Linked DNA regions of Homo sapiens: region 1 is linked to region 2. Evidence: fine-mapped expression QTL. A gene starts in region 2. The other region holds a variant in brackets. All regions are shown on one strand. Distances are from middle to middle. Region 1 has its middle 29 kb from the start of SRGN. Region 2 holds the start of SRGN (serglycin).

The links. PIP is the estimated chance that this variant, and not a neighbour inherited with it, causes the effect.
Region 1: its variant is fine-mapped to the expression of SRGN in whole blood (TOPMed, PIP above 0.99).

What each region holds. Positions count from the first base shown.
Region 1 is chr10:69,054,402-69,063,783 of GRCh38, reverse strand. No RefSeq gene overlaps it. Among named protein-coding and RNA genes, the nearest start is that of SRGN, 29 kb to the left of the region's middle. RefSeq lists enhancers at 1,996-2,115, 6,064-6,263, 6,674-6,853, 7,064-7,213 and a silencer at 8,873-8,922. The variant G/A (reference allele first, on the strand shown) is at 3,629.
Region 2 is chr10:69,084,454-69,092,453 of GRCh38, reverse strand. It overlaps SRGN (serglycin), which reads right to left and starts at 4,351. Exons shown (of 3, transcript NM_002727.4): 1 at 4,218-4,351. The coding sequence starts at 4,296. RefSeq lists a silencer at 2,143-2,322 and enhancers at 3,021-4,220, 5,868-6,037.

The DNA.
Region 1 (9,382 bases), 29 kb after region 2:
GGAGAAGGAGTGAATAGGGTGATGAGGATCAAAATGGATCAGGGTCTCTTCCTACAGATAAGGAAACTGAGGATCCCAAAATGGAGTAACTTGCCCCAGCTCATACACCAAGCCGGGGGGCAGCCAGGATTGAACCCAGTTCTGTCTCCAACTAAGTGGTTTTTAGTATATTCATAACCATCATCACTATCTAATTCCAGAACATTCTCATCACTCCAAAAAGATACTCTTCATTCCCCATTCCTCCCTCCACCCAGCTCCTGTCCACCACGAATCTACTTTTTGCCTCCATGGACATGTCTGTTCTGAGCATTTCATGTAAATGGAACCATACATTTTGTGGCCTTTTGTGACCAGCTTCTTTACTTAGCATAATGTTTTTGAGGTTTACTCATATTGTTGCATGTCTCAGCACTTCGCTCTTTTTGTGACCAAATATGTGCTTGCATGGATCTCCTTGGTTTTGTTTATGCACTCACCTGTGGATGGGCATTTGAGTTGTTTCCACTTTTTGGCTATCACGGATAATGCTGCTATGAACATCCTTGCATAAGTTTTTGTGTGGACATAACTGTATTCTCAATTCTCCTGGGTAAACACCCAGGAGTGGAATTGCTGAGTCCTATGGTGACTCTATTTTTTAACTTTTTAGGAACTTCCAGACCATTTTCTGGAGCTTCACTTCTGTTATCAACCCCATTTTGCTGATGACAAGGGAGGGAGAGAAGTGAGTTTGCTCATATTCGTCAGCTCTTGAATGGCGGACTCAGAGGGTGGGGACTGCTCGTGGAAAGGAATCCTCTGTTTCCCTCAATGCATTTCATCCATTCTTCGAAACTTTTGAGACCCTTCTATGTGCCAGTCACTAGTCTAGGTGCTGAAATTACCTCTGAGAGCCAGACAGACATAGTTCCTGCCCTCTTGGAGACATAGGTTAGAGGAGAAAACAGACAGTAGGCAAATAATTACAAATTTGACAAGCATAATGGCAAAATCTATTAGAGTATTTGCCAACTTATCCTCTACTTTGTACAGTGATCAAGAACTTGGGCTTGGAGTCAGCCCGCCTATGTTCGAGTACTGGCCACTTACTAGCTGGGGGGCCTGGACAATTTCCCTAACCTCCCTATGTCTCCACTATTCACGTGGAAATGGACAGAGTAATAGTACCTACTTTAAGGTTTACAGGGTGGATTCAAAGCATCAAAACCTAGAAAGCACTTCAAACCTGGCTTTGGCAAGTCCAAAATCAATACAAGCTATCGAGGTTGCTGTTATACTGTCTACACCTTATCCATCACTCTGGGGTATGAATCCTGGTCCCTCCAGCTTTCACTGTTTCCCACCTCCTCCCCATGCCTGGCTACCCATATACAAACTCTGACAGTAAGCAGAATTCCCACAGTGCTCTGTTCCAACATCCTGCATTGAGCTAATCTGGTTTGATGCTTCAGTTAGAATCCCTAATTCTAATTGAATGCCAGGCTCCTCATTGCACAGAGTGCCAGGCTCCTCATTGCACAGAGAAGAAAATGCTTTTTAAATATTCATCTTTTCTCCTTCACTAGACTGTGAGCGCCCTGAAGCTAGGCCTTCTTTCTCCTGTAGTGCTAAAAGTTTTTGGCAAGAAAAACAAGTGGAGGTAAAGTCGTAAAGTAGGGTGGTAGGGTTGAGAAAGGACAGGCTCTGGAGCCAGACAGCCCTGGGGCTATCACACCTGCTCTGCCACCTGTAACCACCTGACCAGGACAGCTTCCTTGGGGAGCCTCCTTCAATCATCTGTGAAATGCAGGAGGAGCAGCCGCCCGTCAGACCTGGTGGGGATCAGCAGTGACCTGCAGAAGTTGCTGGTGTGGTGGGCACCGGATACCTGGTGTTTCTGCTGCCTCGGTGCTGCTGAGGACCCAGAGCCCTGCCTGAGCAGCACGCTCACAGAGGCAGCGAAGTACAGGAAGTACACAAGGTCAAAAGGAAAACACGCTCTCCAGAGACGTCCTCTGATCACTATCGTGTACGTTGGGTCGAATGGAACAGAATTTGCTGCTAGAGTGTTTTTCCTCTCCTAACCCCATAGACGCTTCTATTTTGCTATTTTTACTAAACTCGAACAGGAACAGAAAGTATTCATGCAACTGTATCCAGTGAATGATTAAGAAATGCGTAAGAGCGGAGATTGTGTAATTCCCAGGCTGCTGTGCCTTGTCATCAGCCGCAAGTCCGAGAAATACTGCAACCGTCAAGTTGACCTCTGTTCCTAAGAAATTTCCTGGGTTGGCTTTAACACATTCTTTGAGAGTTATGACATAGGATATTAAAAAAATTCCTCCCACTTAGTGAGCCATACAAAGCCCACCACACATCAGTAGTGTCCATCCCATGTTTAATCTTCAGAAGGTGTGTGAGGAATAACATGTTTGCTTTTGAAAGATGCCTTGTAGACTGTGCGCAGTGGCTCATGCCTGTAATCCCAGCACTTTGGGAGGCTGAGGAGAGCGGATCACCTGAGGTCAGGAGTTTGAAACCAGCCTGGTCAACATGGTGAAACGCCATCTCTATTAAAAATACAAAACTTAGCCAGGCGTTGTGGCGGGCACCTGTAATCCCAGCTACTAAGGAGGCTGAGGTAGAAGAATTGCTTGAACCTGGGAGGCAGAGGCTGCAGTGAGCTGAGATCATGCCACTGCACTCCAGCCTGGGCAACAGAGCAAGACTCCATCTCAAAAAAAAAAAAAAAGATGCCTTGTCTTCAAGCAAACTATTATTAAGGATGAGTTGCTTATTTGTATTAAAAAGAGGGCTGGAGGATAGCTTGAGCCCAGGAGTTCAAAACCTGCCTGGGCAATATAGTGAGACCCCATTCTCAAAAAAAAAAAAAAAAGAAAGAAAAGGTGGGGATCACTGAATTTTCTATTGCATTAACCAAGAATCTTAAAAGTCATATTTTTAAAGATTATTGAAGATTTAAAATGTGTCTTGTTTTTTTTTTTTTCATTTTGTTTTATTTTATTTGAGACAGGGTCTCATGATGTTGCCCAGGCTGGTTTTACTCCTGGGCTCAAACTGTCTTCCTGCCTCATCCTCCCAATTAGCTGGGATTTCAAGTGCATGCCAACCCACACAGCCTTTTCTTTTTCATTTTCCTTTCTTTTTTTTTTTTGAGGCAGGATCTTGCTGTGTTGCCCAGGCTGGAGTGCAGTGGTGCAATCGCACTTCATTGCAGCCTGGACCTCCTGAGCTCAAGTGAGCCTCCCACCTCAGCCTCTTAAGAAGCTGGGACTGCAGACACATGCCAGCAATACACCTGGCTAATATTTTAATTTAATTTTTTCTAGAGACAGGGTCTCACAATGTTGCCCAGACTGGTCTCGAACTCCTGGATCAAGCAGTTTGCCCACCTCAGCCTCCCAAAATGTTGCAATTACAGGCTTGAGCCTTTTTATTATTTATTTATTTATTTATTTATTTATTTATTTATTTATTTTGAGATGGAGTCTTGCTCTTTGTTGCCCAGGGTGGAGTACAATGGCGCGACCTTGGCTAACTGCAACCTCCACCTCTCGGGTTCAAGCGATTCTCCTGCCTCAGCCTCCTCAGCAGCTGGGACTACAGGTGCGTGCCACCACACCCG[G/A]CTAATTTTTTGTATTTTTTTGTAGAGACGGGGTTTCACCGTGTTAGCCAAGATGGTCTCAATCTCCTGACCTCGTGATCTGCCCGCCTCGGACTCCCAAAATGCTGGGATTACAGGCGTGAGCCACCGTGCCCGGCCTGAGCCTTTTTATTTTTAAAAGTGGCTTTCCATTTTCTTTCTGTGGCAATTTCAAGAGGCATGGTGTGTTATTATCCCTGAGCTTTCTTGGGTATTAAAAAAAGGCCATGGGACTGGGCGCGGTGGCTCACGCCTGTAATCCCAGCACTTTGGGAGGCTGAGGTGGGCGGACCACCTGAGGTCAGGAGTTCAAGACCAGTTTGACCAACATGGTGAAACCCTATCTCTACTAAAATACAAAAAAATTAGCCGCGCGTAGTGACAGGTGCCTGTAGTCTCAGCTACTTGGGAGGCTGAGGCGGGAGAATTGCTTGAAACCAGGAGGCAGAGGTTGCAGTGAGCCAAGATTGCGCCATTGCACTTCAGCCTGGGCAACAAGAGACTCTGTCTCACATAAAAAAAAAAAAAAAAAGAGGCCATGGGGCTGGGCGCAGTGGCTCACACCTGTAATGCCAACACTTTGGAAGGCCAGGGTGGGAGGATCACTTGAGCCTAGGAGTTCCAGGCTGCAGTGAGCTATGGTCATGCCATTGTACTCCAACATGGGTGACAGAGTGAGACCTTGTCTCAAACATAATAATAATAATAATAGTAATAATAAAATGAAAATAGGTGGTGGCAGCTCCCACTTCATCTTTATTTTTTATTTCAGAGGCACTTATAAACCAGGAGAATTATGTGGAAAAGGAGTCCCCCGATATAACCCAAGACTCAGGAAATTCTTGCTCCTCTTGGCAGGGATGCAGCTGAAATTTACCTTTAGTTAGCATACTCCTCAGATAGGGCAAATGAATTGTGCAAAGATCAAAATGGGGCTTTTTTTTTTTTTTTTTTTGAGATGTCTCGCTCTGTCACCCAGGCTGGAGTGCAGTGGCACGATCTCAGCTCACTGTAATCTCTGCCTCCCAGCTTCAAGTGATTCTCCTGCCTCAGCCTCCTGAGTAGCTGGGATTACAGGTTCTACCACCGTGCCCAGCTAATTTTTGTATGTTTTAGTAGAGATGGCGTTTCGCCATGTTGGCCAGGCTGGTCTTGAACTCCTGACCTCAGGTGATCCGCCTGCCTCAGCCTCCCAAAGTGCTGGGATTACAGGTGTGAGCCAGTGCGCCCGGCCAAGGTGGAGTTTCTTTATTTTATTTATTATTTTTTTTTTATTTTTTTGAGACAGGGTCTCATTCTGTTCCCCAGGCTGGAGTGCAGGGGCATGATCACAGCCCCAGGACTCAAGTGATCCTCCCACCTCAGCCTCCCAAATAGCTGAGACTACGGGTATGCACCACCACACCCAGCTAATTTCTTTTTTTTTTTTTTAGAGATGGGTTTTTGACATGTTGCCCAGGCTGGTCTCAAACTCCTGGGCTCAAGCGATCCTCCTGCCTCAGCCTCCCAAAGTGTTAGGATTACAGGTATGAGCCACCATGCCTGGCTGGGGAGTATCTCTTAATGACTTAAGAAAACTTAAAAGAACAAACTCTTCACTATTTGGTCCGTGTGTTTGCTCCAAATTAGTAAAATTTGACCATGAAATAAAAATTGGAGGCAGGTACGAGGAGTTGGCATCCCTTTGGTGGTTGCTAAAGTTGGGCAAGAAGGAAAACAGAAAACAGAGAAGAATGATAGTGAAGTCCACAGTGAAGTGATATTAACAGAAACCAGTGTAGCCGCAACAGGGAAGGCTGGGGACAGAACTCTCAAAGCCATATACTCGCAAGGAAACCACTAACTCCTGCCCATACCAGGCACCCCAGGACTGTGCCCTAGACCCTTAATAATGACAAATTTTTTCAAATCAGTAACCGAGACCCAACAACAAAAGGGTAACCACATATATGAAATGAATACCAACTCAGAAAATCCAGGGCTCCTGGGCATAACTCTCTTGAACCTCAACTTGGGATGCCTGCAGCCTGAATCACTTCTGAGCCCTTTGGGGATGGGGATCAGCCCTGAGTCCAGGCTGGGATTCAGCTCACTAGAAGCACATTCCCCACCCTTTCCTCCTTATCTGTAGGTGGAGGCAGCTGGGAGACTGTGGGTGATCCTCCACTTATTTCCAGTAGGTTCCTTTTGTCACCAGCAGTCTCTCCTCTAAAGCCAAGAGGAGTCAGGGAGAAGAGTCTGTCCTGGGCTGCTCGACTCGTGCTGAGAAGACACCACTTCCAGGAAGCCTGGGCACAAACGACTCTGACCACTTTGCTTTCAGATTTCAGCGAGGACAGACACTGTGGGGTCACTGTGGTTGGTTCTTGTTAAAGTTCTGAATGCTTCCATTGCTTGAAAAGGGAGGTCTTAGAGAACAGGCCAGAAGACAAGTCTTTCTACCTTCCCCAGGAGGAGGAAGTCACAGGTTAGGCCTCAGGGAGAAGAGCTGCTGATCTTTTGCACTGGAATCAAGAAGTCAGGGAGAGGGTGAGAACTGGGGTGGACCCAAGGCCTCTGCCGCCTTTTGTACCTGCGCTGTCCCGTGTTTATTTATCTACCAGTTAGTTTCCCCCAGCATGGTGTGGAACTGGAAGTGCATGTGGGCTCCCGCCGGCCCCAGCCCACTTCCTCCTCTCCAGGGAGACAATAAGGGGAAGGGAAAGCGTGGCACACTAAACCTGCCAGGGACCTGAGGTCCTGGCTCTGCTGCCCCCCTGCTGCCGAGCCGTCGATCGTGGGAAATTCATCCACCTCTCTAACTTTGCCTCTTCCTCCTCCAAACATGGGGAAGAGAACCTCTACAATGGGGTACAGAATTTGGATGATACATGTGTATTTTCCTGAGGAGATGGTTCTGCAGCTTTCGCCAGAGGGCTGAAAGAGTTCCCGGACTCCAAGGGAAAAAAGATCCAGTCTAAGGGCCCTGTTCCGTGGCTCCGAGCAGCACGGCAGACACTTCCTGGGTCTGTCGTTTACTTCAGGCACCTCTCACTCGCACCTCAGACATCTCCTCAGACACCCAGGTCTCCAGCCATCCACAACTATGATTCTTTTTGCTTTAATCAACCTCTGTTTTAGGCTGCTGGGCCAGGAGGTCAAGTTCCCCTGTGGTGACACCACCACCTCTCGCCAACTGGTCACTGTTGTGCACGCCCCACACAGCATGTGTGCCCACCCACAGGGGCAGGTGGATCCAAAGGGTACTGCTGTGAGTTGGGCAGCTAAGACTCTATCTAGCCTTTAAGACTCAGCTCAGCCACGCACCAGACAACCCAGGGTGGGTGTGAGAGAGTAGAAACATCATCTGAAGTTAACCCATTTGTTTCTGGTTTGCTCTACACACCTGTACCAGGCCCCAGCTGCAAACCTCTTCCTACTCTGAGTTCTTGGCTCAGATCCCCTGGCCAGACTGTGAGCTCCCTGAGGGTGGGGGACTGTGCCTGGGGCAGGCTTGGATCACAGGGGCCAAGCGTCTGCCGAGCTGCAGAAGGGCTCTAAAGGAGCGCCAGCAGGCATCAGTGGGTCTCCCAGGTCCCTCCTCTGGCGGGAACACTAGCAATCAGGGCAGGAAGGAATTGTGAGGGGCAGCAAGGAGCTGGCGGTCAGCATCTACCTGTCGAGGCTCAAGGAACAACTGCTCTCCTCCAGTCCAAGCTCTTCTCATTCCCTCACTGTTTGGGTTGCCCCCTCCCCCTTGGGTTAACAAGGCTGGAAAAAAGCCCTATTGCCCTCCCCCAGGGCTGCCATGGGAGGCCAAGGGGCACTTCTGCCAAAAAATGAGAAACGAGTAAGTGAGGGGGTGCTCTCACCCCAAACGGAAGTGAGACAGCCCTGACCGTGAGCGGTGTGACCTTTGCCTGCAGGCCACACAGGAAGAGAGAGGGAGTTACTGTGTCCACTACATACCACTCTGCCTTCTCTGGGGACAAGGAGCCTCCTCTGAATGTTCTTTACCTTCCGAAGATCTTTGCTTTGATCAGGGGCCCTTTTGGCCATCTGGCCAGCCTACAGACCCCCTTCTCAGAATGCTGTCTTAAAATACATCTAACATAGCCGGGTGCAGTGGCTCACGCCTGTAATCCCAGCACTTTGAGAGGCCGAGGTGGGTGGATCACGAGGTCAGGAGATTGAGACCATCCTGGCTAACACGGTGAAACCCCATCTCTACTAAAAATACAAAAAATTAGCCAGGTGTGGTGGCGGGCAACTGTAGTCTCAGCTACTTGGGAAGCTGAAGCAGGAGAATGGCATGAACCCAGGAGGCAGAGGTTGCAGTGAGCCAAAATCATGCCACTGCACTCCAGCCTGGGCGACAGAGCGAGACTCCGTCTCAAAAAAAAAAGAAAAGAAAAAAATCTAAGATACATAGGATTTCTATTGAAACAATTATGTTGAATGCCAGTAGCCAAAAATATTGTAAAATTTGTGATATGGTGATATATGTGCATCTTCATTAATGCATTAAATAACAAAATCTAGGAGGAATCTAATAATCATCTTACTTTTTAAGTGCAGATGAGCTTAAATCATATTTCAAGATACCCACAACAACCATAAAATGATATGAGAAGATCTGATTTCTAGGGTGACAAAGTCACAGGTACTGTTGACACTGCTGTGGTTTGACATTTACATTCATAACGGAAGAAAACACTCAATTTCAGTTGGAGGTTCATGAAAATTAAGGTGTCATTTATTCCCATTCAAGTTCATCAATTCTTTTGAATGCTCTCTGCGGAGCCACTGTAACTGCATCAGACCAATCTGGTTCAGCTTTTTTTTTTTTTTTTTTTTTTATACTTTAAGTTTTAGGGTACATGTGCACAATGTGCAGGTTAGTTACATATGTATACATGTGCCATGCTGGTGCGCTGCACCCACTAACTCGTCATCTAGCATTAGGTATATCTCCCAATGCTATCCCTCCCCCCTCCCCCCACCCCACCACAGTCCCCAGAGTGTGATATTCCCCTTCCTGTGTCCATGTGATCTCATTGTTCAATTCCCACCTATGAGTGAGAATATACGGTGTTTGGTTTTTTGTTCTTGCGATAGTTTACTGAGAATGAGCTTTTATGTAACAAAGATGTGAGTTGTTTCCCAGTTGCCTCAGACCCTCGGGTCACAAAACCTGAGCATGCGCAGATGAACCAAGCCTGCAACCACAGGGGAACCCAAGTGGGGGCTGAATGAAGAATCAGACACTGGGCCAGGCGTGGTGGCTCATGCCTGTAATCCCAGCACTTCGGGAGGCTGAGGTGGGTGGATCACAGGAGGCCAGGAGTTCGAGACCAGCTTGGCTCACATGGCAAAACCCTGTCTCTACTAAAAATACAAAAAGTAGCCAGGTGTGGTGGTGCTTGTCTGTAATCCCAGCTAGCTGAAGCACAAGAATCGCTTGAGGCTGGGCTTGGTGGCTCACGCCTGTAATCCCAGCACTCTGGAAGGCCGAGGCGGGGGAATCATGAAGTCAGGAGATCGAGACCATTCTGACTAACACAGTGAAACCCCATCTCTACTAAAAGTATAAAAAGTTAGCCGGGCGTGGTGGCGGGCACCTGTAGTCCCAGCTACTCAGGAGGCTGAGGCAGGAGAATGATGTGAACCCAGGAGGCGAAGCTTGCAGTGAGCCGCGATTGCGCCACTGCACTCCAGACTGGGCAACGGAGCCAGACTCCATCTCAAAAAAAAAAA
Region 2 (8,000 bases):
AACAAAGCTATTTTAAAATTTTATAAAGAAATCAAAAGTAGAAGGGATCCCACTCCAAAAGCCTATCTAATTTGGGGCCGATGATGTTAAATGTACTTTAAAATAAAGAACAAGTTACAGACACTAAATTCTTGACATAGCTATTCAAGGGTGTTGGCAGGATGTGAAAATTTACAGTTCCAGCCCCTGAGGTTGTGAGAGTATCTTGACTCTATCTTGCTTGAGATAAATGTCTTGTGATTATAGTGGCTATGCTCATGGATAGAAATGTTATCTTCCTAAAAGGTCCACTTATGGGATTTGTTGGTTAATTGTGTAGTGGATTCCAAGGGAAAGAATGGTTTTTATTTGAATCCTATCCCTCACTGCCCACCTCCCCCACCACCCTGAGTCCTGCTTTACCAAAATACTTTCTATGAGTAAATGTTACCAAAGCAAACAACTTTCTCCAATAGTCCATACCTTTTTATATTATGGTACTAACTTTTCCCTCAACATAATCACAATATACTAATTTCTTTTTTTTTTCTTTTCTTTTCTTTTTCTTTTTTTTTTTTTTTTTTTTTTTTTTTTTGAGACAGAGTCTCAGTCTATCGCCCAGGCTGGAGTGCAGTGGCATGATCTTGGCTCACTGCAACCTCCATCTCCCTGGTTCAAGTGATTCTCCTGCCTCAGCCTCTCGAGTAGCTGGGATTACAGGTGCATGCCACTATGCCTGGCTAATTTTTGTATTTTTAGTAGAGATGGGGGTTTCACCATGTTGGCCAGGCTGGTCTTGAACTCCTGACCTCAAGTGATCCACACTCCTCGGTCTCCCAAAGTGCTAAGACTACAGACGTGAGCCACTGTACCGAGCCTAATTTCCTATTCTTAATGGAAACTTACTGCAGGCATGTTAGAGAAACTTAAGCAGCAACTACCATGAAGGGGAAAAGAAGACCATTTGATTTATTCAAAATGGTAGCATTATCTAAGCCGGAGTTACTTCCTCCTGGTCTATCAATTCCACAAGATGGATAAGCTTCCCCCACTCTTGCATGGTTTGACAAGCTATAAAAAGCTCCTAAGTTTACTTTCAATTTCTCCCTCAACTCAGTGGGAAACGTTATAGCAAGGGCTACGGTCAAAGGATTTTTTGTTTGTTTGTTTAAATAAAGAAAACCTCTGATCCATGAGCTGCAGTAGAAAGTTAATTCTGGCCTTGAAATCAGACGACCAGTTCAGCCGTTAATTAGTTGTAATGGGTCTTGGGCAAGACTCACAAATTTTTTGCAAGAGGTTAATGTATAGAGCAAATGAGATGAGAAATGTCAGATCCAGTTTTCTCCTCTATAATTGGTGCTAATTCCTCATCACAGGGAATGTGATGATGATTACCAGAGAATGGATGTGAAATCACTTTACAAAGAGCAGCACAAGGAGTGGATCAGTATCATTCCTGTGAGCTAGGAGACAGTATACAGTGGACACATGGCGGGCCTGGCCTCCTTGGCTGCACCTGTTCATGGATATTCCATTTTTTTTCTTTATGGGTGTCATTGGAAAAGAGAGGCAATAAAAGTGGAAGATTCACAGGCCTCATCAAATCCCCTGGAGCCCTACATTAAATAGATTAGTCATCTGTGCTCTCCAGAGTTACACATCCCCAAATTTCCATTTCTTTGTGCTTGGTAAACACAATCTTACCCCACATCTTTACTTGGGTTTGACTTATAATAAAAATATACCACCACCAAATTCATATGTTCCAGTTCTAACCCACAGAATCTCACAATGTGAAATTGTTCAGAAATAGGGTCATTGCAGATATAGGTAGTTAAGATGAGGCCATTAGGGTGGCCCTGATCCAATGCCTGGTGACCCTCTAAGAAGATGGTATTAAGACACGGATGCATGGAGGAAAGGCCATGTGCAGACAAGGGAGAAGGCGCCATCTATAAGCCAAGGAGAGAGGCCTCAGAATGCGATCGACCCTGCCAGCACCTTGATCTTGGACTCCCATCTCCAGAACTGTGAGGAAATACATTTCTGTTATTTAAGCCACTCAGTCCGTGGTACTTTGTTATGGCAACCCGAGCAAACCACTATAGTGACCTGAAATGGTTTTGAATATGCTCAGTAAAAGCAAGCCAAAAGCCTAGTTGATTTCATCTGCCAAACCAACGGGCTAGATAAACACTTTTTATAAGACAGGAAGAATGTTGTCGAATCATATCTGGCATTGCGTGGAGGTGTGAGGAAATGGTGTCACGACTCTTCACATCACAGCCTTGTGCCGCAGTCACTCACATGTGCAGCCAGTGGGGGACATCTATTTCCCTGCATGCTCAGATGTGGGCACAAGCCCTTGAGCCCGATACTGAGAGCCTTTTTTCGGAAACACCCTAGTTTGTCAGTTTCTCCCTTGTCTCTTTCTATGGTTTCCTTTTCTAACAAAGAGCTAAACCTACGAGGTCATGACATAAATGCTAGTATTCTATACAATTTCATGATGAATTATTTTCTTTCCTTCTCTTTCTTTCTTTCCTTTCTTTCTCTCTCTCTCTCTTTCTTTCTTTCTGACAGAGTCTTGCACTGTCACCTAGGCTGTAGTACAGTGGTGCAATCTCAGCTCACTGCAACCTCCACCTCCCAGGTTCAAGCAATTCTCCTGCCTCAGCCTCCTGAGTAGCTGGGATGACAGGTGTGTGCCACCATGCCCGGCTAATTTTTTTGTATTTTTGGTAGAGACGGGATTTCACTATGTTGGCCAGGCTGGTCTCAAACTCCTGACCTCATGATCTGCCTACCTTGGCCTCTCAAAGTGCTGGGATTACAGGCGTGAGCCACCATGCCCGGCCTTCTTCATTTCTTTCTAATGAATATTATACAAGGAACGTTTTTGTTTTCATTCTAGTTTTCCTTAATGAATCTTAGTGGGAAATTCATGTTTCTGGGAAATTTTGACAACATAAAGACTTACATATCTCTGGTTGGGGTATGCCCAGCACCATCTGGCCATTCAAGACTGTACTAAAGTATGGGCCTCATTACTCTCGATCTTGTCAGACCACTTGGCTATTCGGGAATTATTTCATCAAGCTGAAGATATTCCCTAAAAGATCCCAGTGAAGCCTGTTCCCTACAATTGACAATGTTTTATATTTTAAAAATACATAAATTAATAACGTTCCAGAAACATTACTTGCTCTTTTTTCAGCATTAGCATAACTAGAAGAAAATGATTTTATAAATTTCCAACATAAAATGAATGTCTCTGCGATCATCTGTAAGATTTCATCTCCACCGGAAGTAAGATCATGACAACCAAAAGTCGCTTTGACGAAACAAATCTAGGACATGTGTGTCATTGTGACTCAACATTTCCCTTACCATTTGGCGGAACCTAGTGTTTTTCTACTATAGGTTCAGCCATCTCTCTATCAAGCCATGACCTCCGTCTTATTTAGACATGATTCCTTATTTGCCAAAGAATAACAAATTGTATTTTTCTTACAAGCCTATCATTTTCATTGTCTTAGTCATTACAGGTTTTAAGTTGTTTCAGTCTGACTAAACAACACTAAATGGTAGATAAACCTAGGAAGATATTTCCGAATATGATGCTTCTCTGAGCAAGAGCACAAATACCAAATTATTTGGCCTTCTCTTTAAAATCTGAGAGGTTTTACATGAACTATGTCTAACCATAATTGAGTTTTCAGTAAGAACCAAGTTTATCTTTAAAAAAAAAAAAAAGAAAAGAAAATACACACAGTCAGATTCACCCCAATTGGAATATAACGTCTCCCAGTGTTAAAATAACAATGACACCGTCACAGCGCACTAAAACTTGGGGCTGATGTAGACACTTAGGGGTAGGCAGACACCCCCCAACAGTCAAAGGTGCCATCTCCTCCATGCAACAGGCACAGGAGTCATTTTCTAGATTCCTTTTTTGAGCTTTTAAAATTTATAAACCTCACATTTTCATCCCAAAATAGCACATTTCAATCATTGTAAGAGTTTACAAGACTGCACACGCCACAGAGTTTAATTTTTCTTGGTACCAAACTTAACAGAACTCATATTAAAGGGTTCAGCGACCCCAAATCCTTCTTCTTTGCCTCCTTTCTCACAATATTATACATTCTATGCCTTAAAATGAATATAATGACTTGCATGGACCACAGGGCTTACAGAGAAGATGGCTGGGGAACAAGACTCCTGAGTCTTACCTTGAACTGAGGATTCCAGAACCAGGATGAGGGCAAGAGCCAGGACAAGCCGACTGCATTTGAGTAGCTTCTGCATCATGACCAACTTAGTCTAGCTCTCCCAGCTGCACGCCAACTTCTTGATTAGGAAATGTAGCAGGGTGCTCTCTGTCCCTTTTAGAAAATGTTCCAAAACCTCAAACCCTGCCCAGAACACACGTCACAATTTCCTGAACAAATAGAAAGACATCCACATCAAAACCCAGAAAGAAAGGGGGTGGGGGGAACACAGTAAAATAACTATTCATACCCATTATGAAACTGTACTGGACTCCCCCCAGGCCTGCTTTTTCAAAAGTTTTGTTGTTTGCCACTTGCCTGCAAGACATTTTTTTTTCCCACCGAAACAGTAGAATCAGCATTTGGGACAGTTTGTTTTTCCTTTCTTCAGGTAACAATCTAAACACTAGATTGCTAATATTAAGAATCTGCTGCATTTTTTATGAGATAAGGGATCTAGGTGCTGCCTTTTCGTCACCAAGCACTTTCAACATAAAACATTCTCTTCATTTTCTTTTTCACCGGGGAGTAACATACCTCACTGAGCCAAGCTCGTGAAGTGAAACTTCAAAGCTGAGCTCTAACCTTCAAGAATGAGTTGTCGGATTTCAGATGAACAGTTTCTTCTTCTTCTTTTTCTTCTTTTTTTTTTTTTTTTTTTTTTTTTTGAGATGGAGTCTCACTCTGTCACCCAGGCTGGAGAGCAGTGGCGCGATCTCAGCTCACTGCAACCTCCATCTCCAGGGTTCAAGCAATTCTCCTGCCTCAGCCTCCTGAGTAGCTGGGATTACAGGCGTACACCACTGCGCTGGACTAATTTTGTATTTTTAGTAGAGACGACGTGTCACCATGTTGGCCAGGCTGGCCTCAAACTCCCAACCTCAGGCCATCCGCCTGCCTCAGCCTCCCAAAGTGCTGGGATTACAGGCGTGAGCCACCGTGCCCAGCAAACAGTTTCTTCTTAAACTCAGTTTCTTGCATTGGATCATTGGCTCTCTCTCTATCTCAAGAACATAGGATTTTCAGTTACAAAGACTGTGGTAAAACAGAAAAACTATTTTGCATTCCCCTCTCCTTCACATTGAGCATTTCTTAAGATGGATTCCATTTCTATTTTTATCTGTTCTCCTAGTCAAAATTTTCAACTCGAGTTTTGGGTCCTCTGGCCTTGAATAAGCCAGAAATCAGGAACGAGGGAGAGGTTGTCCTCACAGTGAGCTGCTGGACCTCAGCAAACAACACAAACCTCTGCCTCATGTAAATAAAGGAACAGCATTTTCCCTGGGCATGGTGCAGATTTCTGGAGGACTAAGGCTCCATATTAAAGTTATACAATAAAGGCCAGGTGCTGTGGTCCACACCTGTAATCCCAGCACTTTGGGAGGCTGAGGTGGGTGGATCACAAGGTCAGGAGATCGAGACCATCCTGGCTAACACCGTGAAACCCCGTCTCCACTAAAAATACAAAAAATTAGCCGGGCGTGGTGGCGAGTGCCTGTAGTCCCAGCTACTCGGGAGGCTGGGGTAGGAGAATCGCTTGAACCCGGGAGGCAGAGGTTGCAGTGAGCCAAGATCGTGCCATTGCACTCCAGCCTGGGTGACAGAGAGAGACTCTATTTCAAAAAACTAAAAATAATAAAATAAAATAAAATAAAGTTATACAATAAATACAAGCCTATCATACATCCTTGCCCTTGTGGCATATACATTTTCCTTACTTCCTTTCAAGATTCAACCACTCTCCATTTCAACATGTCTATCCCTACCGCTCCCCCAGACGGCTTAATGCACGTGCCCCACTTTCCATTCTCATCCTCGCCCTTGCCTGGCCTTTGATAGGAGGGAGGAGTTTCCCTTCCCTTGTTTTAGGCTTCCTGCTGATTCCTTTACCATTTCCTGCTAAGGACAGAGTCTCACAGTCTAATAGCCGTGGTGCAAGAACACAAAGAGTGTACATTTTGGCCCTCCTCAGAAGCCCCTCACATCAGCCAGAAGTGTGTCCTCCAACTCAGGGGCGTCTCCAAGCACAGTAACCAACCCCAAAATGCACTGGCCCGGAAAGTTTTCCACTGAGAAATGTCGGTTTCTGTTTGAAATATCAGATGTCATCTTTGGTCCTTTTAAATCTAACTCCCAATTGAAAACCCTGGCACCAAAACAATAGTTCCTATCAATAGCTTCGATGAGTTTCCTGCAAATCCCCAGAGCTGATTAGGGCTGTGTTTTAAAATGGTAATTTTAGGGGCTTTTTCCATTTGGGAACTTCATTTTTTTTCTTTCTTTCTCTGGGTCATGGTGTTGTTGTTGTTTTTTACCTCTCTCTCTCTGTCGCCCAGGGTGTACCTCCACCTCCTGGGTTCAAGCAAACGCATTTGACTAATTTTTTTTCTTTCTTTCTTTTCTTTTCTTTTCTTTTCTTTTTTTTAGTACAGATGGGGTTTTTGTCATGTTGGCCAAGCTGCCCTCGAACTCCTGACCTCAAGTGATCCACCTGTCTCGGCCTCCCAAAGTGCTGGGATTACAGACGTAAGCCACAACGCCCAGCTCATGGTGACTTTTAAAGCACAGGTGCAGTATTCATAAGCATTTGCTCTTCTCCCACTACGCTGATAATCAAGTCTCTTTTTCTAAGAAGTCCTCCAGTCTCATTTAGCCCTCTTCAAGCTGTAGGGGAGCAGGACACATGCTGCAGCAGCTGGAAGTCCTGGGTCCAAGCCCATGCCCTTCACTTACCAGCTGAGCCACGCTGGGCCACTCACTTTTTATGCGTCCTTTGTTCCAGATGTAATGATGGTGTGGGAAGCCAATGACAGGATGTCCTCAAGAGCACATGGCACACGTGGTGAGGGAGGCATTGGCAACAGTCCTCAGGGCTGGGCATGATCTTACCAAAAGATTCCGCCATTAACCCAATAGGACCCACATCTTTCCCTAAAAGTCAATCTACGATATGCATGTTTTCCACAATTTTAAAAGACAAACCCTATACCAGACTTAATCCTTCTTTCACCAGGCAACCTGAGATGCACCTACTTTACTTCACATTCAGTTTATTTGCCCATAAAATGAGTATTCTTATTCCTTAACAGTCACCTGGAACATGACAGAAATCAGTTCCTGTTGTTTAATAAAGTGACGGGTCGCCGGCAGGGCAGGGTGGCTCACACCAGCACTTTGGGAGGCCAAGGTGGGCGGATCACTCACCTAAGGTCAGGAGTTTGAGACTAGCCTGGATAACATGGTGAAACCCTGTCTCTACTAAAAATACAAAAAAATTATCTGGACATGATGGCGGGCACCTCTAATACCAGCTACTCAGGAGGCTGAGGCAGGAGAATTGCTTGAACCTGGGAGGCAGAGGTTGCAGTGAGCAGAGATCATGCCATTGCACTCCAGCTTGGGTGACAGAGCAAGACTCCATCTCAAAAAAAGAAAAAAAAAATGATAAATTGAGGTTATGAGAAGAGATACAGAGGGCACCATGAAACTGCACAAAGGGGAAGCTCCAAGGCCTATTTCTTTCCTAAAGCTCCAGGTTAAAGATTCCGCCACCAGCAGCCTCTAGGACTTTTGCTTGGCTCTTCATTGAGAGGGTCTTGACTCTGAACTGGGCACTGCACCAAAAAAACAAAACAAACAAACAAACAAACAAAAACCAGTAAATAGATACTGCACCAAATCTGTATGTCTCTAGAGGCTTGAAGGACGGCCCTTGCATGAATTTTTGATTTCTAGAACTAGAAG